Linked DNA regions of Homo sapiens. The protein of the gene in region 2 interacts with the protein of the main gene of each other region in a pairwise test. Each region holds a gene or a part of one and is shown on either strand. Other genes may lie near its edges.

Evidence for each region.
Region 1: the proteins of RAB3IL1 (region 2) and CTDSP1 interact in binary tests that used the Homo sapiens proteins (3 or more experiments, as listed by UniProt).
Region 3: the proteins of RAB3IL1 (region 2) and SATB2 interact in binary tests that used the Homo sapiens proteins (3 or more experiments, as listed by UniProt).
Region 4: the proteins of RAB3IL1 (region 2) and PSMA3 interact in binary tests that used the Homo sapiens proteins (3 or more experiments, as listed by UniProt).

Annotation. Positions count from the first base shown.
Region 1 is NC_000002.12:218,402,808-218,407,360, reverse strand, and holds the end of CTDSP1 (carboxy-terminal domain RNA polymerase II polypeptide A small phosphatase 1), read right to left. Parts: intron 4,351-4,553; coding exon of another isoform or gene 4,327-4,350; coding exon 4,234-4,326; intron 4,130-4,233; coding exon 3,944-4,129; coding exon of another isoform or gene 3,770-3,943; exon of another isoform or gene 3,207-3,769; intron 3,065-3,206; coding exon 2,936-3,064; 3' UTR 1,420-2,935; downstream 1-1,419. UniProt on the Homo sapiens protein: Preferentially catalyzes the dephosphorylation of 'Ser-5' within the tandem 7 residue repeats in the C-terminal domain (CTD) of the largest RNA polymerase II subunit POLR2A.
Region 2 is NC_000011.10:61,899,994-61,907,972, forward strand, and holds part of RAB3IL1 (guanine nucleotide exchange factor for Rab-3A), read right to left. Parts: intron 7,668-7,979; coding exon 7,572-7,667; intron 7,478-7,571; coding exon 7,400-7,477; intron 7,110-7,399; coding exon of another isoform or gene 7,015-7,109; intron 6,692-7,014; coding exon 6,473-6,691; intron 4,890-6,472; coding exon 4,761-4,889; intron 4,666-4,760; coding exon 4,553-4,665; intron 2,549-4,552; coding exon 2,449-2,548; intron 1-2,448. UniProt on the Homo sapiens protein: Guanine nucleotide exchange factor (GEF) which may activate RAB3A, a GTPase that regulates synaptic vesicle exocytosis. Promotes the exchange of GDP to GTP, converting inactive GDP-bound Rab proteins into their active GTP-bound form.
Region 3 is NC_000002.12:199,447,225-199,455,203, forward strand, and holds part of SATB2 (DNA-binding protein SATB2), read right to left. Parts: intron 1-7,979. UniProt on the Homo sapiens protein: Binds to DNA, at nuclear matrix- or scaffold-associated regions. Thought to recognize the sugar-phosphate structure of double-stranded DNA.
Region 4 is NC_000014.9:58,239,259-58,247,842, forward strand, and holds the start of PSMA3 (proteasome subunit alpha type-3), read left to right. Parts: upstream 1-5,584; 5' UTR 5,585-5,662; coding exon 5,663-5,683; intron 5,684-8,491; coding exon 8,492-8,574; intron 8,575-8,584. UniProt on the Homo sapiens protein: Component of the 20S core proteasome complex involved in the proteolytic degradation of most intracellular proteins. This complex plays numerous essential roles within the cell by associating with different regulatory particles.

The DNA.
Region 1 (4,553 bases), on a different chromosome or scaffold from region 2:
CTAGGATGTGAGTTCCCTGAGAGCAGAGGCACAGCCTGGTCCTGGCACGGTGCCTGGCACACAGTACGCACCCGATACATGTGGTTGACTTGAACTTCATGTGGGTACAGGGTGTGTAGGTGGTGGTGGTGGGGAAGCCTCACTGTGGTCTCAAAGTCTGGAGCTCCTTTGCGTGTTTATCTGGCCTCTGCGATGCACATCTGGGAGGATCAGTGTTTGCATGGAGAGCAGGAAATAAGAGCAGGACCCGAGGATGAGGGCAGAGACCGGAGAGGACTGTGAATTTATATAGCCAAGGGCTCTTGTGGTCCAGCCCAGGCCAAAACTGAGACTAGGGTAACTGCAGGTTTTTCCAGGGTGCTTCTTGAATCTTTTTTACCAGAGAAAAGTAGTGGAAGGAGGACAAAGGGCGGCTTCACACAGCGCTGACTCCCCCTCACACAGACTTGGGGACCGATCAGCGTCTGGGGCACCAAGAGGCCGCCTGGGGGCTGGATTCAGGAGGTAAGGTGTTGAGCAGACACGATGGGGAGGTGGAGCTGGGGCGCAGGCACCAACACCTGAGAGGCATTTCCCCCTTCTTCCCTGGGTGTGTGCGGTGGGGGCTCCAGAAACGCCCGACCCCCGGGAAAGGGGTGAGTGAGGTGGGCCCCATCTTTCCAGCCCCCGGGGAGTTCCTGCGTCCGCGAGGACAGGGAGGCCTCTAGCGGCTGGCGTGGGAAGCAAGCAAAGGCTGGCTGGGGACGGCGGGAGGGCATTTCCTGCCGGCGCCTGGGGCCGCGCGGTTTCGCAAAGGAAGTGCCTCCCGGACGCGGGGCGGGGCGGGAAGTGGGGCGGGGGCGCGGCCAATGGCTGCTCAGAGGCCGCAGAGGGGCGGGGGGGGCCGAGCCCCGGCGCCGGCCCCACCCAGGCCGCCCGGCAGAGCCAGGCGCCGGAGCCCGCCGCACCCAGGCCAACAAGTTCTGCCGCTGGAGCCTCCACCCAGAGCCTCGCCCCGCTCCCCGCCTCTGCCTTCGGAGCCGCACAAGCCCCGCCCCTCTGCTCCAGGGCAGAGGCCACGCCCCCTCCCCCGCCGCATTCCAGGACTGCCCCTACCCAGGCCTTCGAATTTTGCTTTCCAGCTACTAGTATCCTGTCGTCTGTGTCCAGGCACTTAATTAGTCCTGCCAATAGGGCACATCTCCATTTTGCAGACCACATACCCGAGGCGGGAAGACGTAGACGAGCACAGCCTGGAGGCTCAAATTTGTGCTCTGACGCTGCCCTTCCCACCTGAAGTGTCGAGGGCCGGGCAGCCCCTCCCTCCACCAACAGCCCTCTAGGTGTGCTGAAGCGGGGGGGGGGGGGCCCACGGCAGCCGCAGGTGCAAGGCACACACCCCACTTGCTGAAGTCCCCCGCAATAACCACAGAAGCAGGATAGGGGTCTGGCTTTCTCTTTAGTTCTCATCACACTAGGGCTCTCAGTCACAGAGAAGGCACTTAAATGGGAAGGCCACCTGATGCAGGCCAACCATATTCACCCCCCGCCCACCCGCTCTGGGGGAGGGGAGCACAACGACATCACCACTTGACATCCCCCTTGGCACTGGTATGTGGGTCCCCTTAACCGTTAGACCCTGGGGAGAGCCCAAGGCCTTGACCTCCGGAATCGCCATGTTAGGAGGAGGGGCTTCAGAAACAGTTGGAAGGCAGGATATCCTGGGAGCTGCCCCCAGCCAGCAGGGGATCAGGCAGGGGGCTGTAGGAGATGGGTTGGCACAGGGGAAGGGGACAGCTTGGTCGGGCTTCCTGGAGATCCCCAAACCCCACAGAAGGTCCCACCTCCTACAGATCCCCCAAAGGCACCGGTGAAGGATGGGCAAGGAGGCACTGATGAGCTGGCGTAGAGACCCCCCACACACACTTAGCTGGTGGGCCTAGCATATGCTGGGCACAGAAGGTGCTCAAGAAATGTTTTTTTGAATGAATGAACGGAGCAAAGGGGTGTGAGGGACAGAGGACAGGGCCTGGGCCCCTTGGCCCAGCTTGTTCCATTCAGAAAATAGCAGTTTAAAAAATGTAAAAATCCTTTCCCTCCCTCCCCCCAACTTCTGGGCCCAGGAAAGGGGCAAGGGAGGGGTGTCTCTACCCTGACCCTTCCCTCTCTCCTTCCCCTAAAAATCTATATACACATGTACATATTTATATGGCACCACAAGGGGGGTCCTGCCTATGCCCCCACGCTCAGAGCTGGGGGAGCCAAGCCCCGGGGCTGGTTAAGGCAGAAGTCTGAGGTCATTGCTTGGATGATGCAGGGAGCAGCCCTCAGCTGTCGGCCCTGGAGAAGCTGCACTGTGGGGCCTGAAGGACAGACTCCTGCTGCCTTCCCCAGTGGTAACAGACCTCCCCTCCCTCCAAGGCAGAGGCAAAGGTTGGTAGGGGCCCTCTCAGTCCCAAGGGAGGAGGTGGGGCAGGGGGAGGGGCTGGTTCTCCCCTCCCAGCCTAGAGCTGTGCCCCTGGGAAAGCTGGGCGGGGAAGAGGGGGCTCTATGCAAGGCACTTGATGTCCACCGTTCCCAGACTGGGGGTCCAAGGCAGGAACCCTGCCCCCAGGAAGCAGAACCGGAAGGGGCCAAGGGGCCCAATTTGGCAGCAGAGAAACATGGCAGCATGGACAGAGACAGAAAAAGGGAGCAGCAGGCAGGGCCCCCCAGGTCCCCTGAGAATAGGGGAGGAGGTTTGAAGGCACTGACACGGGGCCTGGAGCTCACGGTCCTCAGTGCAGCCTGCTGCCCCTACACCGCCTGGTGGGGCTGGTGGGGGAGACGCCCGCTTCCCCATGGCACTGAGTGTGGCGGCGGCCCATGGGTTTTCCTAACAAAGGCCTGGGCAGTCTTCCTGGGAGGAGGTGTGGGTATCATTGGTCAGGGGCAGGTCCTGGCCCCATCACCCTCACTAGCTCCCTGGCCGTGGCTGCCTGAGCACTGAGTACACGTCGTCCACACGGCTGAGTTGCTCGAAGAAGGGGAGGAGGTCGTGGAGCTCTGTGTCACTCATGTTGTCAAACCACGAGGCCACCGGTACCTGGGGAAGTGGGTGTAGGAAGATGAGGGGGGCAGGTGGTCCTGGGTGCAGAATTTCCAGGCCAGCCCTATGTAGCCACTACTCAGATCATGCAGTTTCTGAAAACCCCTCACCCACAGTGTTCAAACTTTTTTGACAGCAATCCCCAGGAAAACACATTTATAACGTAACAATGCAAAAGCTTCACAATTCCTAACCTTATCTGTGCGAAGCACTCGGATACTTTTTTTTTTTTTTGAGGCAGGGTCTTGCTCTGTTGCCCAGGCTAGAGTGCAGTGGCACAATCTTGGCTCACCACAGCCTCTGCCTCCAGGGCTCAAGTGATACTCCTACCTCAGCCTTCTGCATAGCCGGGACTCCAGGCATGCGCCACCACGCCTGGCTAGTTTTTGTATTTTTTGTAGACATAAGGTTTCACTATGTTGCCGAGGCTGGTCTTGAACTACTGGGCTCAGCTACCTGCCCACCTCAGCTTCCCAAAGTGCTGGGATTACAGGCATGAGCCACTGCACCCGACCGGATATTTTCTATTCTATTTCATTTTGTTAAAATTCCCAATCAGAACCCACTAAATTAATTCTGTGGGCCATCAGTAGGTCACAACTGGCAATTCGAAAAATTGAAACTTTCCAAACTCCGTTGCCCTGTGGGGGCCCCTGTGCATGGCAGATGCTCTGCTTTGTGCGAGGGGAAAAGACCATATGGCTACAGGGCAGGTGGATGAGGGGAGTGGGCGGCAGGCACAGGCAATGAATGCAGGAAGGACTGGGAGGGCACCCACCCCCCAACTGGGGATCCAAGAGGCCAAGGTGGCCTGAATGGACTGACCCCTTCCTGGGTCTCAGCTCCTGTCCCAGTCCCAGTCCAGCCCGCACTCACAGCATTGTCTGGATGGAAGACATAGGAGGCAGGTGAATTGTCCAGGATGAGCACCCGCCGCAGGTCTCGACCCAACCGGCTCAGGTCCTTCACGTAGTTCCCCCGGTGGAAGACGCAGGACTCTCGAAACAGCCGGGCCCGGAAGGCCCCCCATTTGTCCAGCAGGTCAGCTACTGGGTCTGCGTACTGGGAGCAGGAGGTGGGTCATCCTGGGGCCCGCAGGTTCATTGGGCTGCATGCGGGAGGTAGGTAGGAGGGCAGGGTTGCCCCGGGACCCCTGTGGGGCTCACCTTGGCGAGGCTAGCAGTGAACAGCACACATTCAAAGAGCTCGCCCATTCGCTGCAGGAACTCATCCACGTGAGGACGCTTCAACACGTAGACCTGGGGGGCGGGCCAGTGAGGGGGCTGCGGGCCAGTGGGGCAGTGTGGGGGTGGCCGAGGGCTGGCAGGGCATGGGCCAGGGAGGCAGAGGCGCACAGGAAGGAGACTGGGCCCGCAGGCTCCGCTTGGCCAGCTACCCTGACCACTGCTGGGGAAACTGTACCCACCCCCCGCCAGAAAACGATCAAAACTTCCACTCCACTGGCCAGTCCTACCTCACGAGGTCC
Region 2 (7,979 bases):
GGCCCAGGGCCCCTTCCCAGGCCCGGGCCCCATCTCCCAGCTGCTGAGAGTGGGGGCACTAATGGCTCAGAGGTGCCCCCCTCTGTACTCACTCCTCCTGTAGACCTCAGCCGATGACTGACTTGTGTGGAGATAGAAAGGACAGTCCCCTTGCCTCAGGGTGGAATCAACTCTGCTAAGAGCCCGGTGGATGGGGCTGAAGCTGGGCTGTAGCTAAGGCCACATCCTGGCTGGACTCCCCCGTCCCTTCCCTCATTCTCCTGGGAGCTGCACACAATCTCCAGGTGAGGCTCTGCCTCTTCGGAACCCAGCCTAAGACAGGGTGGAAGGTAGCCGGCGGCTGTGCCCGCCCGCAACAGCCCCTACTGAATGTCCAACACTCCTGGGGAGGGACATCAAGTGAGAGGGGCACCCGCAGGCTGGGGAGTGGAGAAGCTTCGGGGAGGGGCGGGACGGTGGTGGCCTGGCAAAGATAGGGAGGTGCGAGAGAGCGGGGCGAGGTCGGGGGACCAGCCCGTCGTGGCAGGGACACCGCTGCACAGGGAGGGTTGAGGAGAGGCTGCGGCAGGAGGGTGGGGCAGGGCAGAGCTCAGGACAGGAGCAGGGACAGTGGATGCCCACAGAGGCTCATGAGCAGGGAGTAGCAGGGAGGGGGCTTTCCCTCTCCAGGGAGTGTGCTAGGGAGAAAACACTTCTCCCTGTGGACCCCACATGTCTTGGTCTTTCAGGGCAGGGACCACATCCTAAAACTTCAGACCCTCCTCACCTCATCTCCCACCCCCAGCTTCATCCAGTGCAGCAGGACACCCAGGCCAGGGACTTAAAGTGCTAGAGGTGACATTGTTGAGCACGGGAACATCTTTTGTGGGGCCTGCTGTTGAGCCATGGTTGGGCCTGGAAAGCGGTGATGGAGATAAGTGGCCACTGAACAAGGCTCAGTGGGCACAAATCCACAGGGTAGGGGCTGCAGTGGACTCAGAGCCAGGATCCCAGGTCTCGGTGTGTGGCCCTGAACACACCCCTTTCCTCTGCCAAGGCTCAGCCTCCCTTTTGGTAAATGGGTGCTCAGCACACCGCTGGGAGGACTCACGCTCGGATGCCTTGTGGAGTTCATCAAGGACAGTATAGTCTGCTGCCAGCAAAGGGACCATTTGTCCCCTTTAGACCTGCTCCCCTGCGAGGAGCCTCTAGCAGGCCTGAGATGGTTCCTCAAGCTGTGTCACTGGAAACGTGTTTCCAAACATGTTCTCTTGTTCCCCTCAATCCTCTTAAGAGTCAACAGAGGGACAGAGGAAGAGGAATCCCTGTCCTCAATCCCCAGCTTGGTGAGAACCCCTGTCCTGGTCTGGGTCACTCGGCAGGGGAGGGTGGGAGCTGGGATTCCTAGAGGCCCCTTGGCACTCACGGCCGACTTAAGGCTGGTGCACCAGACGCACCGCTGAACCTTTTCCAAAGCTTCGGCCAGCACCTGAGTCTGGGCGTCAGGAGCCCCGCACTCTAACTGGAACTCTAGCATCACTCCTGGATTAGGTGACATTGAATGACAGAGGGGGGCGATGTCATCCCATGACATTTCATACATAAGGCTGCATCTCAGCCGACTGGAGAGTGGCCCTCCTGATGGCTCTGAAGTCAGCTGCCCTGTGCAACAAGGCCCTGTGGCAGGGGACTGCGGGTGTCCTCTAGAAGCTGAGGGTGTCCCCTTGCCAGCAGCCAGCAAGAAAATAGGGGCCTCAGTCCTTCAAACACAAGGAACTGAATGCTGCCAACAATGTGAGTTTTGAGGAGGACCCTGACTTCCAGAAAGGAACACAGTCTGCTGACAGCTTACTGCGACCTTGCAAGTCCCTGAGCAGAGAATCCAGTAAGTAAGTAGTGCTTAGACTCCAACATGGGGAACTGCGCTATTTTAAGCTACCAGGTTGATAGTAATTTGTTACACCGTAATAGCAAACCACTGCCCTTGGCTTGGCTGTGTGGCCCGAGTCAGTCTCTGCGCCTCTCTGAGCCTGTACCCTGCTCTGTAAATCAAGATGTAAGGCTGGGCGTGGTGGCTCACACCTATAATCCCAGCACTTTGGGAGGCCGAGGCAGGCAGATCACTTAAGGCCAGGAGTTCGAGTTCAGCCTGGCCAACGTGGTGAAACCCCATCTCTACTAAAAATACAAAATTAGCTGGGCGTGGTGGCACATGCCTGTAATCCCAGCTACTTGGGAAGCTGAGGCAGGAGAATTGCTAATGTCTGCCTGGGAGGCAGACATTGCAGTGAACTGAGATTGTGCCACTGCACTCCAGCCTGGGTGACAAAGACTCTGTCTCAAAAAATAAATAAATAAAATAAGTAAATCAAGGTGTAGTGCTATTCATACTCCCAGGCCCAGGGCCCAGTGTCCCAGCACCCAGGTGGCCCCAAAGGAGTCAAGTAACGCTTGCAAAGGCTGACTCACCCTGGCCCGGGAAGATGGCGAGATGTAGTAATGGCTTTTGGAGTCCCCGAGCCGGATTCGGTGGCGGCAGGTGCGGGTCAGCCCGCTCAGGGCACATGTGCTAGGGGAAAGCAAAATGGGTCACGGGGGCTGGCTGGGGCTTGCCCCTCTCCCTCACCCCTGCATACAGGGAAGATGCAGCAGCTGAGAGGATGCATGGGGAGGGGCAGGCCTCCCTTCCCCCACCCGGCTTCCAAAGGAACCCAGAGCCAGGCAGAGAAGGGAGCTGGCCCCAGCCATCCCTGGGACAGACCTCGAACTAAGCTGAGCTGTACCCCTAGAACCCTTGTTTTGCCCCTACTGGGCAAGAGAGCTTGGTTAATCTCATGCCAGGTGTACAAAGTCCCACCCTCTGCAGGCTCTGCATATGCCTCTCCCTCTACTTCTGGGGACTCAGACCAGGCACTCCTCCCCCAACTAGGCCAGAGTTGAGGTCTGGCTGCCTCCCGCTTCCCAACATCCAGCAGCTCCCCTGCTTCATCCATGCAGGCCTTCTGACCCCACTAACCCCCATGGTTCTCAGCCGCATGCCAACCAACCCCGTCTAAGAGCCTTCTCCCATGCCCTCTTCTCTCCTCCCCCCAGTCCTGCATGACGTCGCTCAGCATCTTCAGCCACCCACATGAAGGGTCTCCACAGGCCCTGAGCAACCCCCATCTGGGCCCCACTCCCCAAACCTGCTCTTCACTGGCCATCATCTGCTCGGCTCTCTCCTCCTCACCCTCTGCTTGGTCACCAAGTCCCCAGGCCAGGGCACAGCAGCAGTACTTTTGGCCTGCATCCCCTTGGCTCCTTCTGGCCAGCTCTCTGCCTCATCGCTCTCTTTCTTCTCCACATCAGAGCCAGGGCTCCTCCAAAAACCCACATCTAACCCATCATCTTTCTCTCTTGCTTTCCTAATTCCCAAGAAATGGGGAGAATCCCAAATAAATGAAGGTTTAAAAAGCTCCTTGGCTGCGGACTTATCAGAGCATTTGTTGCCTCCTGGTTCACTGGGACTCTCTGATGGACCAGAGAGCCTCTTTTCAGGTGGCAGCTATTGATGACTTTTTTTTTTTTTTGAGACAGGGTCTCACTCTGTCACCCAGACTGGAGTGCAGTGGTGCAATCTCAGCTCACCACAACCTCCGTCTCCCAGGCTCAAGCAATTCTCCTGACTCAGCCTCCCGAGCAGCTGAGATTACAGGCGTGTGCCACCACACCCGGCTAACTTTTATATCTTTAGTAGAGATGGGGTTTTCTCCATGTTGGCCAGGTTGGTCTCAAACTCCTGACCTCAAGTGATCCACCCGCCTCAACCTCCCAGAGTGCTGGGATTACAGGTGTGAGCCACTGCACCCGGCCTATTGATGACTTTTGCCGCACTGGCTGGTGGGTTAAAGCCCAAACCTGTGAAGGCTCTTTATACTCTGGCCCCAACAGCCTCTGCAGCCTCCACCCCAATTCCCTGTCCCCCCACTGCTTAGCCAGATGCCCCAGTGGTGCTTCCGTTAATACTCCAGCTTCTCACACCTTTGCACATTCCGTTCCCTCTGCCTGAAATGCCCTTCCCTGCTTGGCAAACTTCTATTCATCCTTCAAAACCTGGCTCAAATGCTCCCTCTCCGTGATGAGCCTCCCACCAGGGCACCAGCCATCCCCAGCCAGGCTCTTGGCTGCCAAGGTGAAATCCTCCCCAATTTCTGCCCCTTGCTCCACCCTGGCTATTTTGTTCTGCTGCTCCCCTGCTCAATGCCAGGTGAGTAGCTGGAGGACAAATGCCAGGGCTACTGCGTCGTTATTTATTGGCAGGGGCACAGCCAGCAACTGATAATCATGGTTCAAGAAAAGAAGGGGAGGGCACAGAGCAGACCAGTCAGGAAGAGGCAGACCCTAGCTCCCGGCCTCTCTGGAAAGCCTGGGGGTCCACAGGAAACCTGCCAAACTGCCTCCTTGCCCTGTGGGGGCAGCAACTGTCCCTGTCCTGTCGGCGCTGCTGCATCCTGACCACCCCTCGGCACAGTAAACACACGGCTTGGCGGGGCTTTCCCACATGGGCAGGAAGGAGCTAAGACCCTCAGCTTACTTGGTGCTGCTACAGTCAACCTCGGCCACCTTCACTGTGGGCAGCGTCTGCGAAGCCACCGGCTCAATGGTGAGCGTGTTGTCCTCCACGGCGGCCCGTACCAGCACCGAGAGCTGTGGCAGACCAGGGAGGCAGGCAGGGTGGTAAGGGGCTGGGCCCTGGCGGAGGGGTGTGTCCCCCAGCTGGCCCCGCCCCTGCCATGCCTCACCTCCTGCATTGTGAAGTCCAGGCAGGGGCCCACGTCCTCTCGGTACACCCTTTCCAGGAAGGGGCAGGTCTTGTCCAGGGTGGGGGATTCCCTCCAGGCCTGGAACTCTGCAAACAGGATTGTGTCCACCTGTGGGGGAGGGCAAGCGAGGGTGGGGGCGGTCAGGGTACTGGGGCCAGCATAGAAGATGCAGGCTGAGCTGAAGGGGAGCGAGGGAGGACGTGGGGCAGGCCCAGCAAGCCAGCAGGTCGATCCCCAGCAGCCGTGCAGGGAAGCCAAGTCCAGCAGCAGCAGAGCTCCCTTCTGCCCTTTGCACCAAAGAATTTAGAACTAAAAGTTTTGTTTCCAGGCCGGTGTTAAATTTCTTGGCGCTACTGGATTTTAGAGTGGGGTGCAGGGCTTTGTCCTGAAGACCCTCAGTGCCTCCTTGAGGAGGAAAAGTCAAAGAGCAACTAGCAGGAGGCCACAGGTACCAGCAGGTACACAAGCACACACAAGCACGTGCACACAGGAGGGGACACACACAGGCTGCCCTGGGCCCACACCTCAGAGGTGACTGCTGGCCTGCTCCAGGCCACATGCAGAATGAGGGAGGCTGGGAGGGGGCAAAGTGGGAGGCCCCTCTTTGGAGCCATTTACCTGTCGGGAAAAGGAGGGAGAGGGAGTGGAGGCAGGGGCTGGGGGCTCCCCAGGTGGGAGCGGCCAGGCCGGCTCGTAGGTGAGGTGAACCGCCTTGCTGGGGACCACGCAGAGGAGCAGGGAGAGCAGCGGGGCCAGCCCGGGCTGGGCCGGATGGACAGACAGACAGACAGACAGACAGGTAGACAGGTGCACAGAGACAGAACAGGAGGAAGGGGAGAAGTTAATGTACATTCAGAAGCTCAGAGCTCAGGAGGTGGATGAGGGCCTGCTCGTCTTCCCTGGAGGCCCTGGAGACAGAGGTGGAAGCCAGGATGGAGTCGAGTGGGCTGGCGCCAGGGACCCAGGAAGCTGAAGGCACCACAGCCCTCTGAGGCACTACCTGGGTGCAGCCTTGAACTCAGCTCTTGATGTCCCTGTCTCTGGTTCCTCCAGCAGCCCCGGGAGGCCCCATTTATCAGGTGAGAAAGCTGAGGTGCTGACAGGTGGCCTCATTTGCCTACAGACCCATGACCATGAGTGTCAGCCCAGCCTGGGCCCAGCAACTGGTGTGGCCAGCTGAGGTGGGACGGAGACACCTCTCCAAAGGCCACGCTTGTCTCAGCCCCACAGTCAGAGGGTGCCAGAAACCCCTTGAGCACAGGGCTGTCACCAGGTGGTCCTGGGGCTCGAGGCTGTGGCCACACGGGGTCCAGGCAGCCTCTCCCCTGAGGCCCAGTGGCTGCTGCTTGGCCTCTTAAGGCCAAGGAAGTGTGTGTCTCAGTGGAGGCCCCAGATCCTCAGGGCCAAAGCCAGCCTCAGGTGCAGAGACCACTACCTACTGCTTGGAGTCAGTGGGGCAGGGAGGGGGCCTCAGGTCCCCAGATGGTATACCCTGGAGGCTGCAGGCCAAGTGCCTCAGATCACAGGAGGTTGGAGAGAAAGGACCTGCCCAGCCCTCACATCCCAGAGAGGCGCAGGACAGGCTCCAGGTCACACAGCATGGGGCAGGCTGGTCCTCACTGGGCTCGGACCCTGCCTACCGCAGGCACTGCCACCCTTCCCCGTGCCCAGAGCCCGCTTCCCACCCTCACCTCCTTGCCCTCTCTGTCTGGGGTGAGGGTGTGTCCCGCAGCGGGACACACGGCGGGGCAGAGGGTGCTGCTGGTGCTCTTGTGGCGAGAGTGGCCCTTTCGGGGCCCGGCCTTGGTGGGGCTCAGCAGCTGGGGGTGAAGCTCGCGGTTGGGAGAGGCTGGTGTGGACGTGATGACCAGCGTCTTCAAGGCTGTCACCTCTGCCTGCAGCATGTCGATCTGCATGGGATGGGATGGCTGTCAACCCTCACCCAGACTGGATGCCATCCTGGCTGCCACCGCCTATCAGCCTAACTCAGGACAATGCACCCCTGCAGTGACAGGCACTTAGTCCCACCCGACGCCCTCAGAACAGCCTTCGAGGCAGAGACCCAGACACTCGTTTTACACATAGGGAAACTGAGGCTCACAGAGGCGACATGGCCTGCCCAAGGTCACTCTGTGAGCAGGATTCTGTTAGGAACAAGTGTCTGGGAGCTGGCTGGGCCTCCCATGAGAGTTCTGGGACCGCCCCCAGGAGCCAGGAAAGGCCCAGGCCTCACATTTTGCAGATGGGCAACCAGGCTTGGAGAGAGGAAGCGACTTGCCCAGGCTCAGACAGCCATACTGAGTGAGGTTTCTGCTTTGTAAAGTGGGGCTGGGAGGAGAGGGAAGAAGGTACAATAATCACAGGGTCCTCCCAGCCCCAGCACTATCCCAGAAAAGGCTCTGCCATGCAGCAGAATCACTGATGGAGCCCCGGGACACTGGGCCCTGTGATCTCAGACCCCCACCCTTCCCTTCCCTCCCTGGGCCTAGGTTCACCCATTCCTGCTGGCCCCACCGGGCCAGGTGAGCGTCCACTCGGGCAGCAAAGCTCAGTGCTCGCTGAGCCGGGAGGCAGGGGGGGTGCCTGGGCTGGCCTGGGCAGGCGGGGATGGGCCTCACCTTGCCCCGAGCCTCCTTCAGCTGCTTTTCTGATGCCGCCTGCTTCATGTTGGCTTCTCGAACCATCTTGTGAGCTTCCTAGGAAGAAGGCAGTCCCTGCGTGAGTGGTGAGGAGCCAACGGACGCCCAGATGACCCATTCCCCAAGTTGTTCCCGCGCCCAGCCGGTGTACCTCAAACAGGCTGGCCGTCAGCTCTTCCAGCTCCTGTTCTAGCTGCTCCCGCACCTTGGACAGCCGCTCACATTCCTCGTCCTTTAGCTTCAGCTCCTGGAGGAAAAGAGGCAGGCACTTGAGCACCTCAGCATCCCCAGGCCTGGCACGGGAGGGACCAGGCCCACCGGACCAGGTTCCATCCCCTCGTCATTTTATGTGGGGCTCAGAGTTTATTTCCTCTGGTGCCTGACAGTTTGTGATGCTTTTTCCGTTTAGCCACAGCATGAAGCTGAAGCCCTGCCTGCCAGTTCATCAGAGCTCAGGGCACGTTTGCAGTCAAGACGGGTGACCATCGGTGCGCCCAGTACAGGCCTGGCCAGCAGCTGGCCTCGGTGAGGGCACATCCCTCTCCCTTGGGCACATCTC
Region 3 (7,979 bases), on a different chromosome or scaffold from region 2:
GCTGAAAGCATAGCTCTGTGGAATGAGAGCCAGAGTCTCAGCAATGTTAAGGACATCGATTTCATAATTCAGAGGATTGCAGGTCGAAGCAAGAGCCTCTGCATTTCAGGTGACAGTCAGGTGAGTACACCTCAGGTGATGTGCCCACAGAGCAACTCAGGTTACCCCGGTGTGTGCTGAGAAGAAATGAGGGTGCTCATTATTCAGCCTCAACTCTCTCCCCTTCAGCCTAGTTTGGACTTTGGGAAGAGGAAGAACAGCAGGCCTAGGAACCCCATCTAACCCTTACTTGGCTGGGCTTTGTAACAAGAGGAACATTCATTACTTCTGACTTCCATTTACAGAGACAAAAAAAAAGGAGGGGGAGAGAGTAGTTCCACCTCAGGTAGAATTTAAGAAAATGGGATTTTCCTGGTCAAACTGTGTATGAAGACAAAGTCAATGGTCATTTGTAATGTCTCCTGGGCAACCACTTTCCATGGGCTCCTCTTTGAACTTCCCAGGGAAGAATGAGAGCCAAATGGTCTCTCCCTAAAACAGATTTTAGCTAATAAACACAACAAAGTATGCGAAAAGCACTTCAGTTTTTCTGCATCTTCTCCAAGACTAAAAATTTGTACATTGTGTGACAGGTCCACCTCATTTTTCTTAATGATGTTTTTATTATTCTTTCACTCAATTAAAGCAGAAATGGATATTGCATCTTCTGACTGTATAATTGTTATTGTAATCTGTTTTCGATCACTGCTTGGGAAATGGGTCCAAAACAACATAAACTCTCCACTGCCTCAGAAGACAAGTCATTTTCTTTTACTACGACACTTAAAGAGACATTTATCATGCTGCTCTGTTAGCATCTTTGGATTATGACAAAAGAAAGTTCTTGTTCTGTTAACCCCCAAAAAATAATATTTCAAAAATGCTATTGCTATTTCAAGTGTTTTGATATGAATGCATCGTCAGTAAGCTATTAAATATATCAATTTTGCCTTTCCTTATATGTAATAATAATTGAAACAAATGCAATAAAAGTACTCAATTTTAATATAGGACATAATTGGGAAATCTAAAAATACAGTTATTTTTACTTTATGCCTTTGGTCCTTTGGTCCTTTCCCAGGAGTCTTGGGCATGGCATCCAATCAAATTTGCTCTCTTTGCAAAGAAAATATTTTCTTGTGTTAAAAAAAAAATCAATCACAATCAGTTATGAAAGAACTGATACACTTGCTTTCCAGCCAAATGCAAAAACAAGTAAAAAGTATTTTTTAAAGAAAGAAAAAGATATATGTGGTTAACGTGATGAAATTCACGCTGTTTCTACGACAAACCCCTGCAAATCACCTCTGTCAGATCTTAGCACTTTGGAAAACATTTGCTCTAACTAGAGTCTCTTATTTTATATATTATATACATAAATATCTGTGTAAGTCTTCAGTCAAATAAACAAAAGAAAGACACTGAGCTGCTGTGCACATTTCAGTAACTGTGCAACCATCAGTGGGCACCAGTTACCCTGGTTTGAAATGGATCCCTTTTGATAAATAGTAGCTTGCAGTGCCTCCCCTTAATTTTTTGATCTTTTTTGTTATTTTACAGTTTAATAACCAACTGTACTACGATAGAACTCCATTCCAATGATACGGCTACTAGGTAAGAGCAGAACTGAATCTGCCCACACACTATTAGTGAGTAACAGTACCAGGAGCAACTAAAATTGAAATATATTTCCCCAGAAGGTTTTCCTGTCCTATGTGTCATAATCATTAATAAAGAATATGCTTACTATAAAACTGACATAGTTTGCTGATAACTTTATTGCAAGTTTCAAATTCTTAAAATTTCTATTCATGCTTTTATCTGCATTTTAGGCATTTGTCAAACTAATAACCATAACATCCACTTGTTTAAGTTAAAGGACATCAATTAAAAAGGGGAAAAAAAATGCATGCCATAAACTCTATTGTCATAATTATATATCTAAAGCACACTTGTTCCATATTATGTCTTTTTATCTAGTTTTTTAAAAATCTGAAATAAGTAAAACTTTTTAATTGAGCAGCAAAGATACAGAAGTTGTAGAATGCAATTTCTGATGTAGCCTTTCAGTGCCACTTAATTATACTGATTTTACCACAATTCTTAAATCACTTGCTACTAAAAAGCAAAATAATTCTGTTAATTGAAACAAATATATATAGCTAGAGTTCCATAATTTTGAAAACTCCACCATGGAACATTTTTACAAAAACACTGTAGCATGTTATGCTTACAGGGCTTGTTTCTACATAAAAGAAGAAAAATAATGTTTGGTTAATTGCTAACAATAAAGAGCAACGGAAAATAGCATACTATAATGACTACAACTGTGCTTTTTTCAAACTCTGTAAGTCCTCAACTGGTTTTTGTTTTAGTCATACCTCAGTTCCACTCAGGGCATCTACTTTGACTTTGAAATATTTATCACATTACATTTAAGTAGTAGGATGATGAATCTTTTGTATATAAAAATCCATTTTCACCACAGACATTTTCAAAACCTCTATTGCATTTTAAAATAACAGGAATTCACAGCTCTCCTTACTGGCACCCTAAATTAATGCTGGAGAGCAGTGTTGATTGGAAGTGAAAAAAGACCATACAATCAAAGTCAGTAGAGGCAAATCATTCATTTAAAAATTGCTACAAAGAAAAGAATAGAAACTAAAAGGCAAACTCTTTTCTTCATTTTTTTGAGTTAAGCATAAAGGTCTCCTACTCGAAACCATTTTAGGTTATTTCTCTGTTTTTTCCAAAAAATAATGAGTTAAAATGTATGGGTTAGATCCAACATTTCACTGCTGTTCTTATTCTTGGGGAGTGGGGGAGACGGGGAACTTGCTGCCAAAGCTTCTGAAAAGAGACTTTGGGCTGCTAATTTTCCGTTCACAAAATCTAAATTCCCCTTATGCATTCTCACACAACTCATGAAATAATATGAAACAGTATTATATCACTGCAAATTGAGACATTTTTATCAAAATAAAGAGTGATGATGCCAACATTTCATTTGTCATTTCCCACTTGTCACTTTTCACTGACAAACTGTTACACATACAACTTTTGTCAAATGCTCCATCTTTAAATATGTTCCAAAATGCCATTGTATCTCAGTATTCATGTAAGGAAGATAGTAAAAATTACTATGTTACCATATATTAGTTATATAGGTTTTTTAAAAGCCTACTGATTAAACAATATAAAGAATTCTTTATTAATTTACATGCTATATAGGATAAAGTTTGGCTTTCTGAAATAAAACAATGTACATATTTTACACACCTAATGTGGGTTCTTAGTCATAAGAAACATTTTAATGGTGAGAAATTTTATTCCAACAGAAACCTAAAAAGCTTTAAAAGATAAGTATAACCCAAGAAAATAATACTATTTGGAATTCATCTAGCCCTGTAAATTTAACATGTCTTTTTAAATATATACACATATGCTGATTCTATAATAAATACTTTTTAAAAAGAAAGAAAAATAGGGGTTTTAAATTATAACCATCAAACTTCACTGCTTACTACTTTGTCAGATATACCAAATAATTACTGTAGTCTTTCCTGGAATAAAACTGATTTCCGTATACTTAAAATGACTCAAATTCATATTCTTAGCTATCTAATAAATGATGATTAGTCTGTTTTCCCTTCTCTACAGAGATAGATTGGTTAAAACAAAATTCAAGAAAGAAAAGAAGAATTCAAACAGGATATCTCATATGTACAGACTTTGCTGGTTACAACCCTCTGGGAAAGGATGATATTGCTTATTTTCTGCAGGGGTTAAAAAACAGATGCCTTAAGGGACATCTATGTAGTTCCAACACACACACACACACACACACACACACACACACACACACACTGCACTACAGATGATCTTGAGTATACAATGGTCAGTGGGTTTCTTCTGATGGAACATAAGGCTTCCAAAATTACTTGAAACATCAAATTATGCTCAGGACTTTGAGGGGCGGATACCCTATGTTCTGTTTAATGTGTATGTTCCACTGCATATATTTTTTTAACCAAGTATATCTTTATTTTAATAACAGGCCAAGAACTAAAAACACTTTAGAGAAGAGTTATTTTTCTACCTCAGCAAAACTACAGAGGACAGGCTAGATTGTTGGATGACCCCAAAGCCTAAGTTCATTCTATTTAAAAGATCTTAAAACCTTAAAAAAAAAAAAAAAAAGTGAGGAGGGAGAAATACAATCTTTTCTCTTTTGAAGTAATGTGTACTTCCTACAAATATTATGATATTCATCCTTGGGAATGGAGTTTTCTCCATTTTGCCCATGTTAACAATATATTTCTAAGTATTTTATAATCTCAATATATACCTATCTATACTTTCATATCTGCATTCCTTTCAAAAAGTTAAATGTCTCTCTACTGTTGCTGATATGGTGACTACACCTGACCCGAACTGCATTTCTTTTCATCTAAAAGGAAGTGTTCCACATGTAGACAATTAAACTAACTGTTGTTGTAGACAATGTTCAGCTTTAAATGAGGCCCTGACTAACAATCTTGATCACATTTGCTTCCCTATTTGAATACATCAGTGTGTACTGCATAATGATTTTTTTCCCCCTTGCAACAAGACAGTTATGTTCTTGAAAGGGCTGCCTGGTAGCACGAATAGGTCTACTTCAGGTAGACTAGTTATAAGATAACTTTAACAGACAGTATGCCAACAAAATTAAATTGTTATTTATAAAACATAAATTATTTTTCAGAAATAAGCAAGTTTTTTTAATAAAAAAAGCAAATCTCTCTAAAAGATATTTTCAATGTTTAAATATTTTTCCCTAAAATGTAGAACATTTAACACCAAAAAATCATAAAAATTCATAGGAAAATGAAAAATATCAAAAAGATTTCTGATGTTTAATGTCTCCTATCAGCAAATACACCATCTGGTATATTCAAGCGCTGTTCATTCAGTTTAAATAAAGCTGTCTGAAAGTTCTTCTTTAAGCCAAACATTAAAAAATGAAAATGCTTGTGTTAACAATGAATGAAGCACAATAATTTATTGCTATTAAAGCACAACTGGCCAGCACCTTTCAGCAGTCCAGGAGAAAAGCAGAATGCCTTGCTTCCTCTGGAAACTTGATTGGCATCACTTTCATTTTATGCTGTAAGTTGCATGGCTGAAGCATTCCATACAGCAGAACATTTTAGGTACTTATGCTAATAGTGGTAAAAAGGATCATCTGATTCTTATTTTCATCATCCTTAATAATCCCTTCTTTTCCTAAATCTTCAAATAGATCTGTAAGTTTTAATCAACAATTTCACAAATATAAATTTCCCCACCATTAATCATCCTTTTTCAAAATCCTTATGGAGTGAATTACTAGCTGAGAGGGGACGCCAATTCTAGTAAGTGAATGTTACCCAGCAGGGATATAAAGCTGTCAACACCATGGTGCTCTTGCTAGCTCTAAACTCTCTCCTAGCCTTCATATGTTTTTTAAAGAGATATTAGCCTTTTTTTTTTCCTAAGGACCGTCTGTAAAAGCTGACTGACATACACATCTGAGCACTTACATTTTATTACATACATGCTTTAAAACACACTGCTCAGATAAGAGTAAAAACATCCCAGAAAGTGTTGGAAAGACAAAGCAAAACATCTAGTTTCTAACAGTCTTCTAAAGCTAACCACATAGTAAACAATCCACTTTTAAGTCCCCTGTTAAAACACAACCTTAAAGACAGTGACAGTGTATCTACCCTCTCTTCTATTTAAATTGAGACACTAAAGTAATGCCCCTTCTTTTATGAATACTTAGTTCTCATCAAAAAACACAGTAAATTCCCTCTACCTAAATAAGTAGAGTAACAGCAGAATTTATTACTGCAACCAATGCATTCAGAAGTATATTTAAACTATATTTACCTCACTGCTTATCAAAAACAGTAAGATAAATTGCTATTTGATTTGACAACCAATTAACTTGATCTCCCTTATTTTTAAAAGAACAGCTTTTAAGAAAGAGGAACACTAAAGATTAACAAATATGTACTCCCAAATTTTTGGCTCCACTTTTAAGACAAATTTTATTGTATCCATCATTACACCATTGAAAAGACTGCAATATATCTGAAAACGGTAATAAATGATACAGAGCTATAAATACTTGTGTAGTTATCTATGCTTATTATATTGCTTTATAAAGAAAATTTAAACAAAAGAACATAGAATGGTAGAAATATAATCTACTTTATATTTACTCTATGTTCAAAAAAATCCTTTAATTATAAAAAAACTAACTAGAAATGTATTTTAAACATTTTTTAAAATTTAGAATGTGCATTTTTCAAAAGGCCTGGCTTTGCTCCAAACTGTATACATGGTTAACAGTTACAAAGAAACTATTAACATCTTAACATACATTTGGAAATTATATAAACTTAAACTCATAATTTTGTTAACATTCAATTAGAAACCTTTGTACTATCAAAATCTTATCTTCTAAGTTGTTATATTCTAAAGTTGTCTAAATTAATCTCTTTACACACTATTATGCTGTCTTTTTTAAAAAAATTTAAATTCCACTAAACAATTTTAACCAGTTTACTATCGTGTATTATAAACGATATGTATTGAGACAAAATAATGTCATCTTTATTTTCAATTTGGGAAGCAGCTAATAAGACCTCTGCTATTACTAAATTAAGTTAATCAAGAGAAAGTGTCTAAGGCAGCTGGTTGAAACAAATCTATTATTCTTCACCAAGATAATAATTTTAGTTTATATTAAACACATAAGGGCTCAAATGTGAACTATAGTCTCAGAAAATTTGAAAACCAACCACTATTTAACACTAAAGTTATCCCTGGTCAACAGAACAAGGCACTTTCTTTCATAGTTCAACATGATATAGAGGAGGGGAAAAAACTTGTTTTAGGGAAGCACGTTGTTAACAATTACATTCTAAAATGTTTACAGCTCCTTTCAATTTAGTGAATTTTATTAGATCTTCAGAAAGATACCAAAATTTTAAGTCCAAGCCTTTTCTGTCCACAAAGGCCACTTTGGAACACACTGTCTCCAAGGAGTTTCAGAACTTTTTCAAACATTTTCAGCACTTAGCATATCTCATAATTGGTACCATCATACTCTATGAATTTTTATTTCTTATATGCATATACTAACTGATTATGCCAAAAGTCTGACATTATTTGCTCCAGTATCAGGACAACAAATTAATAAACCTCTCTTTTAAAAAGTGGGTCACAGAACTGTTTTCTTTTGCTTCAATAAAGTATATTTTCAAGTCCCAAAAAGGGGAGATAAACAAGCCAGAATCCATCACCAAACTTTTTAACTCACAACATTGAAAGGATGAATACTTCTCAAGTGAGACGATTAATATGAAAGACTGAGACAAACCATCCTAAGTATTTACCATGAAGAAATAGAAATAGCAAAATAAGTAAAAAGAAAAAAATACGATTTTATAAAACGTATGTGTTCAACTCTTTAAGGAGGAATGAACATTTTTAGATGTAAGTAACTATTTTGAAATACACACAATAGACACTTACAACAAGGGGGTGGGAGCTTATCATTAAGGTTTGCCAAGGTTTTATATCATTTAAGACAAGTTAATATATTGAATATTAAATGGGCTACTGTTGAAATTATTAGAGAAAAAACGTTAGAGGCAAAAAAAATTAAACTAGTGATTTATGCCAAACACACAGAAAACCTGCATGCCATGTGGAATTGTGGATTTTACATGTAAAAGACAACTAAGCAAATGGCATACAAACTCCAAAATATTTCAATGTTTAAATTTCTCCCATATCTTTATTTTGTATGATTGCTTTTCCTGACCACTTTAAAAGAAAGTAGTTGCTTAAGTAGTAAAAACTACAAAAGATTTTCTTTAAATAAAATTATTAATAAATTC
Region 4 (8,584 bases), on a different chromosome or scaffold from region 2:
ATTTTCATATCTCAGTTGTTTTGTACGTCTTTAAAGAGCCTTTACTAGAATCTTAATTTCCTAGTATCCATCCCCAAGAAGAATGGAAGAAAACTTGATGTATGCACTGGTGGTATAAATCTCACTACAAAAAGAACTATTTTTCACTATATATTTCTTCAGGGATAGACTCCATATTGAGAATAGGAAAAAGGACAGAGAGAGAGAGAGAGGAAGAGAAACAGAGAAGGATAAATTGGTTCTTTTTCTTCGGAGTCCTCAGGTGCCTCTGAATGTTTTTACATCCGGTCTCTTAAATTTTAGAAGAGCAGCCAAAATGTGGGGCTCATAGGTTTGTTAAGATAACAATTAAAACTGCCCTCTACCACTAACTATCCAAGTATGCACAGTAACACAAAAAACTAGTCTTTAACAGTGGGCATTTGGTTTCCTCTGTGTTTTAAGGAGAACACGGGGAGGACGTGTGATTTCAATTGCGCAAACACAGTTTGTGACCTGTTTCGTTTACAAAAGGTTAACTTTTTACTGGAGAATCTGGTTAATATTGAAAGTGTTTAAATTAATTCTGCTTGAGAACTCTGTAGTTTAAGTGCTTTAGTGAAAGCGTTTAAGTTTCAGGAAAAAAGTTACAACCCGCGCCCAACGTGGGGCTCGAACCCACGACCCTGGGATTAAGAGTCCCATGCTCTACCGACTGAGCTAGCCGGGCGCCTGTTACGTTAGCCTGCTTTTTTACTTCTTGAGGACTGTTTAACTACATGGTTTTATATTCTCCGCGTAGTTTCTTTTCTAAAAAAATTTATAACGTACTATTAGATCGGCACTTCAGAATTATTTTTCAGAGCGTTCTAAATATTTAATTGTACTTAGATTTAAGAATGTTTGTATATGTATCCAAAGATCATTGAAAACTTATGCGAATCTTTATCATTACAGAGTCATTGAATCTTTTTAACAAAGTGTTTAAAAATATTTACCAACCAATATGTTTTGTTTACATAAACACATATCAAGGCCATCCAACTTCCATCAAATGGCATTCCGGATTCCTACATGTTTGGGCTCCGCATTTAGAAACAAAGTCCAATCTCTGAGGGGTTAGTTTCCCTGAACAACCGCGGGGCTTAGCTATTTTCTTTAGCATGGTCTGATGAAGGAGAGTTAAATTCAGAAAAGGGGGGCTTCGAGTCAATTAATATAAGGTCTCTTTAGCGTAATTGTCTGACAATGAGAGATAGGACGTTTGGAGGGTGCTATTATTCTCCTCAAGTGACAGGAGCTGGGAGGAAAGAATTATAGTCTCTGAATCTAATGGTAAAGAATGTGAACTCTAACAGGCAAAGGGTCAGAAACCCGATTTTAATCAAATTACCATAGGAGATACTGGAATAATGTCATATGGAAATACATATACTCTGAAATGATGGTGAACCTTTCTAGATAAGAAATTCTGTCCGGGCGCGGGATGCCTGTAATCCCAACACTTTGGGAGGCCAAGGCAGGTGGATCACGAGGTCAGGAGTTCGAGACCAGCCTGGCCAAAATAGTGACCCCCCCCCACCCCCACCCCCCCGTCCCCAACTACCGTCTCTACTAAAAATACAAAAACTTAGCCGATCATGGTGGCCGGCACCTGTAATCCCAGCTACTCGGGAGGCTGAGGCAGAAGAGTCGCTTGAACCCGGGAGGCGGAGGTTGCAGTGAGCCAATATCACGCCATTGTACTACAGCCTGGGCGACAGTGCGAGACTCCATATCAAAAAAAAAAAAAAAAAAAGAAAAAGAAATTCTTCTAATTTCTGTGATAATGGAGAGGGGTGTGGTGTTTATACTACTACTTAGCAGTGCAAGTTAAAGACCAATTTGTAAACCTGAAAATAACAAAGAATTCTTAGGATAGTATCCCCAAAGCACAGTATTTGGAAGCTAGAAACATTGGGCATCACATTTCCTGAGGTATTCAATTTAAAAATAACATATGTCATAAAATAGTATACATTTAGAGTTGTCTTGCTCTGTCGCCCAGGCTGGAGTGCAGTGGCATGAGGCTCACTACAACCTCCGCCTCCCGGGTTCAAGCAATTCTCCTGCCTCAGCCTCCCAAGTAGCTGGGACTACAGGCACCCGCCATCATGTCTGGCTAATTTTTGTAGAGACGGGATTCACCATGTTGGCCAGGCTGGTCTTGAACTCCTGACCTCAGATGATCCACCCGCCTAGGACTCCCAAAGGACTGGGATTACAGACATGGGCCACCACGCCTGGCCTTTTTTTCTTTTTTCTTTTGAGAGGGAGTCTCGCTGGGCTGGAGTGCAGTGGCGTGATCTCAGCTCACGGCAACCTCTGCCTCCCGGGTTCAAGCAATTCTCCTGCCTCAGCCTCAGCCTCAGCCTCCGGAGTAGCTGGGACTACAGGCATGCAACACCACGCCCAGCTAATTTTTGTATTTTTAGTAGAGACAGGGTTTCACCATGTTGGTCAGGCTGGTCTCAAACTCCTGACATCAGGTGATCCGCCTGCCTTGGCCTCCCAAAGTGCTGGGATTATAGGCGTGAGCCACCGCGCCCGGCCGAAAGAACCCCCAAATTCTTAATTATTAATAAATATTGAGTGCACTAGGCACTCAAATAGTGTTTATCACACACAAGTAATGATGTTAATTAAAAGATTAACTGATACCTAAACAAGTTTTGAGTACTTACGGTTTACCTCCAAGGCCAAACCTTCTGCAACTATTAACCTTTAGCTTTCTTCAACACTTTCTTGGACTATCTTGGTCTAAATCCGAACTCCCCAGGAAAGAACTGCAACTAGAGGCCAGGTGCAGTGGCTCACGCCTGTAATCCCAGCACTTTGGAAGGCCAAGGAGGGTGAATCACCTGAGGTCAGGAGTGTGAGATCAGCCTGGCCAACATGGTGAAACTCGGTCTCTACTAAAAATACAAAAACTAGCCTGGCATGGTGGTGCACACCTGTAATCCCAGCTACGCGGGCAGTTGAGGCAGAAGAATCGCTTGAACCCCGGGGGTCAGAGGTTGCAGTGAGCAGAGATCATGCCACTGCACTCCAGCCTGGGTGACAGAGCAAGATTCAGTCTCAAAAAAAAAAAAAAAAAACCACTTACAACTAGAATGTTTTAACGAGGGTTAGGTAAATTAAGTGGCTAGTCTTCCAAGTCATTCAAGTCCTTTTATCTATCGGTTTGTTCAAGAATAAAAACATCAATTGTAATGCTTCATTAGCAGGAAAAAGCAAAAGTAACTGAAATTCCTTTTTCCCCCTTACTTTCTATACCCAATTCTGCAAGCCCTATGTCTTAGCCCATATTCTGCTGCTATAACAGAATACCACAGACTAGGTAATTCATAAACAAGAAAAGTTTATTTGGCTCATGGTTTTAGAAGTCCAAGAGCATGGCACTGACATCTGGCAAGGGCATTGTGCTGTGTTATCCCATGACAGAGGATCAGAAGAGCAAGCGAATATGTGAGACAGAGAAAGCTGAAATCCAGTGAAACTCACCCCTTTATTAGGAACCCACTTCCAAGATAACTAACCCATTCTGAAAATGTCATTCATCCATAGTGCCCTCATGACCTAATCACCTCTTAAAGGCCCCACATCGCAATACCATTACATTGGCAATTAAATTTCAACACGTGTTTTGAAGGGGACATTCAAACCATAGCTCCCTACACATCTGAAATCCATCTACATATTTCCACCTCCACTGCCACCACTTTAGTCCAAATCACTCTCCATTACTGCTAGCTCACAAAAGTGCAATAACTTTCCAACTAGTATCCCTGCCTCTCTTCTTTCCCTTAGCTATCATTCTTCACACAGAAACAAGAGGTCATTTAATGATTTAAATCAAATCATATAATTCTCTTGCTTTAAAAACTCCTGATAACCTCACAGTAGAAAACCAATAATAAATGTGAAAAGAATGATGGAATTAGAAAATCACCATTTGGCAACCATTGTAATAATCAATTCAAATAAGAATCATCAGATATTAGAATTAATGAGTGAAATGTTGAGGCGTAAACAGGATGTGTACATATTCTCAAAGTATTTCCTCACAAGATACTAATTACAAAGGGAAAAATGAAACATTATCAGGGATAAATCTTCAGCAAGTGATCAAAGTTAACATTACCAGCAATAAAACAACTAACATCATGTCCCTTCTAATGTAATGCTCTGACATGAATGAATACAAGGTCATTTCTGTAGTATTCCTGCCATAAATGCATCACTTGAATCAAATAACAAAAAAATCAAACCTAAATTAAGGAATATTCTACAAAATAAATGGTTTGTATTCTTCAAAAGTGTTCATGCCATGAAAACTGAAGAAATACTAAGCAACTATTTTCCAGACTAAAGCAGATTGGAAACATGACAACTGAATGCAAGGTGTGATCTTGGATTTTCTTTTGCTATGAAGGACATTATTGGGCCATTTACCAAAAAAAAAAAAAAAATGCATAAAGTTGATAGATCATAGTATTGGTAATTTTCTGATTTTCACAATAATACTGTGTCTCTGTGAAATAATGTTCCTGTGTTGGGGGAAAATACACACTGACGTATTAATATTTAGGAGTAAAAAAAATGCTGATGCCCTATTTACAATCGGATTAAAATTCAAACCACTTCAAGATTTGGTCTCCTGTGCACTTGTTCTCTTCCTGTCATTCTTCCCCACTTAATCATTATGAGAGGTCACTCTGACGTGACAGTTCCCAGCGCAAGCCAAGTTTTTTACTGTTCCCTAAACCACTGTCTTTTGTTACCCTATTTTAGTTTAAATATCACTCACTCAGAAAGTCATTCCCTGAGCACACTGCCTAAAGTTAGTACCTCCATTGTCTATTAAAGCACTCTTTCTTCTTACTATTTTGCTTATTTATTGTTACCTATTTATTCCCACTGAATGGAAATTACATTAGAAATGGGGGTATGCTCTGTTCACGGCTTTTTCTTGAACACGTGGAATATACTAGCGCTCAAAAAATATCTTTAATCAGACTTATCTTTAACTCTTACCAAAAAGCGTTATACTCATAGAAAGAGCACTAATACTTCCGTAAAATTCTAAGCTGAATTCAAAGACGATACCCTTTAAGTGAAACTTCACGAGAGCCTGAGCACAAGGAGGTGAAGTGGATGCCATCAAGATTCTGGGTCAGGGTCGGGACGCGGAGGAAGACAGGTTACTTCGCGCCTACTGCTTTTTCTACTTTTTGTGAGAGTATACCAGCATCTCTCCCTTTGGCTTAAAGAAAGAATAAAGTGAGGAGAGAATAATAATATAAAAGATAAATAATAATTCCAAGGAAAGGAATAGAGCAGCTTCTCAGATACCACGACGCCAAGCGGCTCAAAGTACGCGAACCGAAGGAGGAGCCTTTGCTTTCCCCAACCCCGCCTCCATTGCTTCTGCACATGCGCGCCGCCAGCCTCTCGCGGCCCGCTTTTTTCCCACAATACTCCTCGTCCTGGGGGCCGGAGCCGCGGAACGAGCCACAGAGAAAAAGGTTATTGGTTGGCAGTTCAGCCAATGAGCGGGCCTGTTACTAGTTTGCGGCATCCTGTGGTATAGGGGAAGCGCTCCGGGCCTGGAATCCCTACGCGTCCCTTTGGGTTTAGCACGATGAGCTCAATCGGCACTGGGGTGAGTTCGCTGTCTGTCGGTGTAATAGTTTAACCTAAGGATTGGGGTTGAAGGGAACTCGGACAGACCACATGGGGTTCGCGGACCCGGGGTGCTCTGAGACCGCCTTCGGCTGGGTGGGCCATTTGCAGCTGTTTGGAGACCGGTCGTCTTTATCCCCTATATGCTAGGCCTGCGTCTCAGGTGACCGTGACTCCTGAAGCTTTTCAGCGCAGGTGTAGCCGGCTTGGCGTCGCCGCAGTGAGGTTTGGAGCCGCTTTGGATTGCTGAGTCACTTTCTTCAGCCACTTAGGGAAACCGAAAGTGGAAACTCGTGGGGCTTGAAATAGTGTGTTCTCTTGAGAACCACCGAGGCAGTGAGATTTGGGATTCCGGGGTCTGGAGATCGTGCTTTTTGTGGACTGCGTTTGCAGTTCCTAGGGTGCTGCTGATTCACAGGCCTTCTCTGTCTTTAAGTGTGCAGATCATTGACCGCTCAGTTTAAGAGTCACTGGAAATCCTGTCGGAACAGAACTAATAAAAATGGTCTGAAAAACAATCTGATGAATCCTTCAGTTTTTCCTTTCTCGTTTTTCCTATACAAATTACCTAACAGCGCTTGTAGGCATTTATTCCGTAAACGTTTAAATGGTTACTTAGGAACTTAACAGCTTCAGACTTTTCATAGACTGTTGAGGATTTTGCAGTGGGACTTGTTAACTTGTTTGGCTTTCCTTTGTTAAACGTATTGCATATGTGCAGTCAGTTTACTCCTTTTATGTACTTCTCTATATAGAAAATACAGTTTCTAAAAGATTTATTGGTTATTTGCACTAGAGTTATTGAATAATGAGTTTCTCAGTTCCTCAATTTCTACTTCTTAACAAGATTCTCATGCTCAGCCTTAAGTTCAAGTACCGGTGTTCTAAATTTGATAATAGGCAACTTATGTCTGGAATGGTTTAATCCATTCAGTTATGAATGCTAAAGTTCTGCCATACTTTTCTTGGATAAGTAAATGCTCAATATTAAATCTTGTAGCAAACTGACTTTGCAATTATATTAATATTACCTTGAATTAATAGTATTTCATTCTACAAACCTTTTAAAGAATACTTGATAATGTAACCATGTGGGATATTTTAGTAACAATGGTAGGGTTAATGATCTGGGTTTAACAGATCAGGAAACAGACTCAGAAAGTACCACTGCTGAAGGCTTTTCTTCTGTCTTCATTTCTCCCAAGAACTCCAGATACGAATATTTGTTTGTCTGCTTGACATGTCTGTTCACTTGATCGTTTAATAGTCATTTCGTACTGCATGTGAAAGTAGAGCTCTGGGTTTTCTCCTCACCTTGCCATTTTGCATCTACTACAGTCTTCAGCTCAGTGAATGGTCATATGAAAAAATCTGTTATTCATCTTTAATTCCTTTTTTTACTTTACTCCCAGAACCAACGCTTTAGCAAGTTTATTTTTTTATTTTTATTTTGTTTGAGACGGAGTCTTGCTCTGTTGCCAGGCTGGAGTGCAGTGGCACGATCTTGGCTCACTGCAACCTGTGCCTCCCAGGTTCAAGCAATTCTCCTGTCTCAGCCTCCCGAAGAGCTGGGACTACAGGTGCGCACCACCACGCCCAGCTAATTTTTGTATTTTTCGTAGAGATGAGGTTTCACCATGTTGGCCAGGATGGTCTCCATCTCTTGACCTTGTGATCAGCCCGCCTCACCCTCCCAAAGTGCTGGGATTACAGGCATGAGCCATCACGCCTGGCCTAGCAAGTTTATTTTTATTATTTTTATATTTTACTCTACTCTCAAAAAATATTCCCTTCTACCTCTTCTCTCGTCTAAGCTACTACCGCTATCTTTGGAACACCTTATCTTTGCTTCTGTTGTTCTCTCTACAGCTTATTTTCCGCATAAAGCCAGAATGATGTTTTTAAAAATATAGATGATACCACTCCCCCTGCTTAAATTTCTCATTGCATTTAGAATAAAATACAGAGTCCTTTTTCCATCCTGGAAGACACAACATAATCTGGCCCTCAGCTACCTCACTAACACAGTTTACTCTTCTTTCTGCTGCTTACAGTGCTTGGGACACAGTGACCTTATTTCTGTTTCTTGACTGTGCTAGCCTTATTTCTACCCTAAGATCTTTGTGCCAAATGTCAAGAAGACTTTTCCTTCATATCTTAAATGGCTAGCTCCTTGTCATTTAGGTTTGACTCAGCCTAAATATAACTGCCCAGAAGGCCTTCCCTGATGATGTAGTCTGTAGTAGTTCATTGCTTTACTCTTTTATTTTCATCTTAGTGCCTTTTCTGATTTACTGCTGTACCTCTAGCACCTAGATTCATGTCTGATGTGAAACTGAAGGACTTAATGAATGAGTATACCTTTGTATTCCGTATAGTAACATAATAGATACTCATTAACTGCTTGGTGAATGCCGAATGATTTGTTTGAAGTCTTTTAGTTTGTTAATGGCAGAGTTATCGTTACAAATTTAAATGTTCGAACTCCAGTGCTGGTTCTACTGCCCCATATTAATCTTTTTCAAAAATGAGTTTTGTAGTCTGGGTGAAAAGTGTTCTGACTTCACCTGGGACCTGTATCCATTACTCTTCAATAGCTGAAATCGAAGGTATATAGCTTTATCTTAGCTACTGTTGCTGCTCTGACAAGTTTCCCTTTCCTCTCTTGAAAGCAAGGTCTTTGTTGGGATATAACAGGTTCCTGATGTTTCAGCCATTTAGAGGGGAAGAAACTGTATGGTCATTACTGCCAAAGATACAAGCTTACTGTTGCCCTTTTCTCCTTAAGTATGACCTGTCAGCCTCTACATTCTCTCCTGACGGAAGAGTTTTTCAAGTTGAATATGCTATGAAGGCTGTGGAAAATAGTAGGTAAGAAACA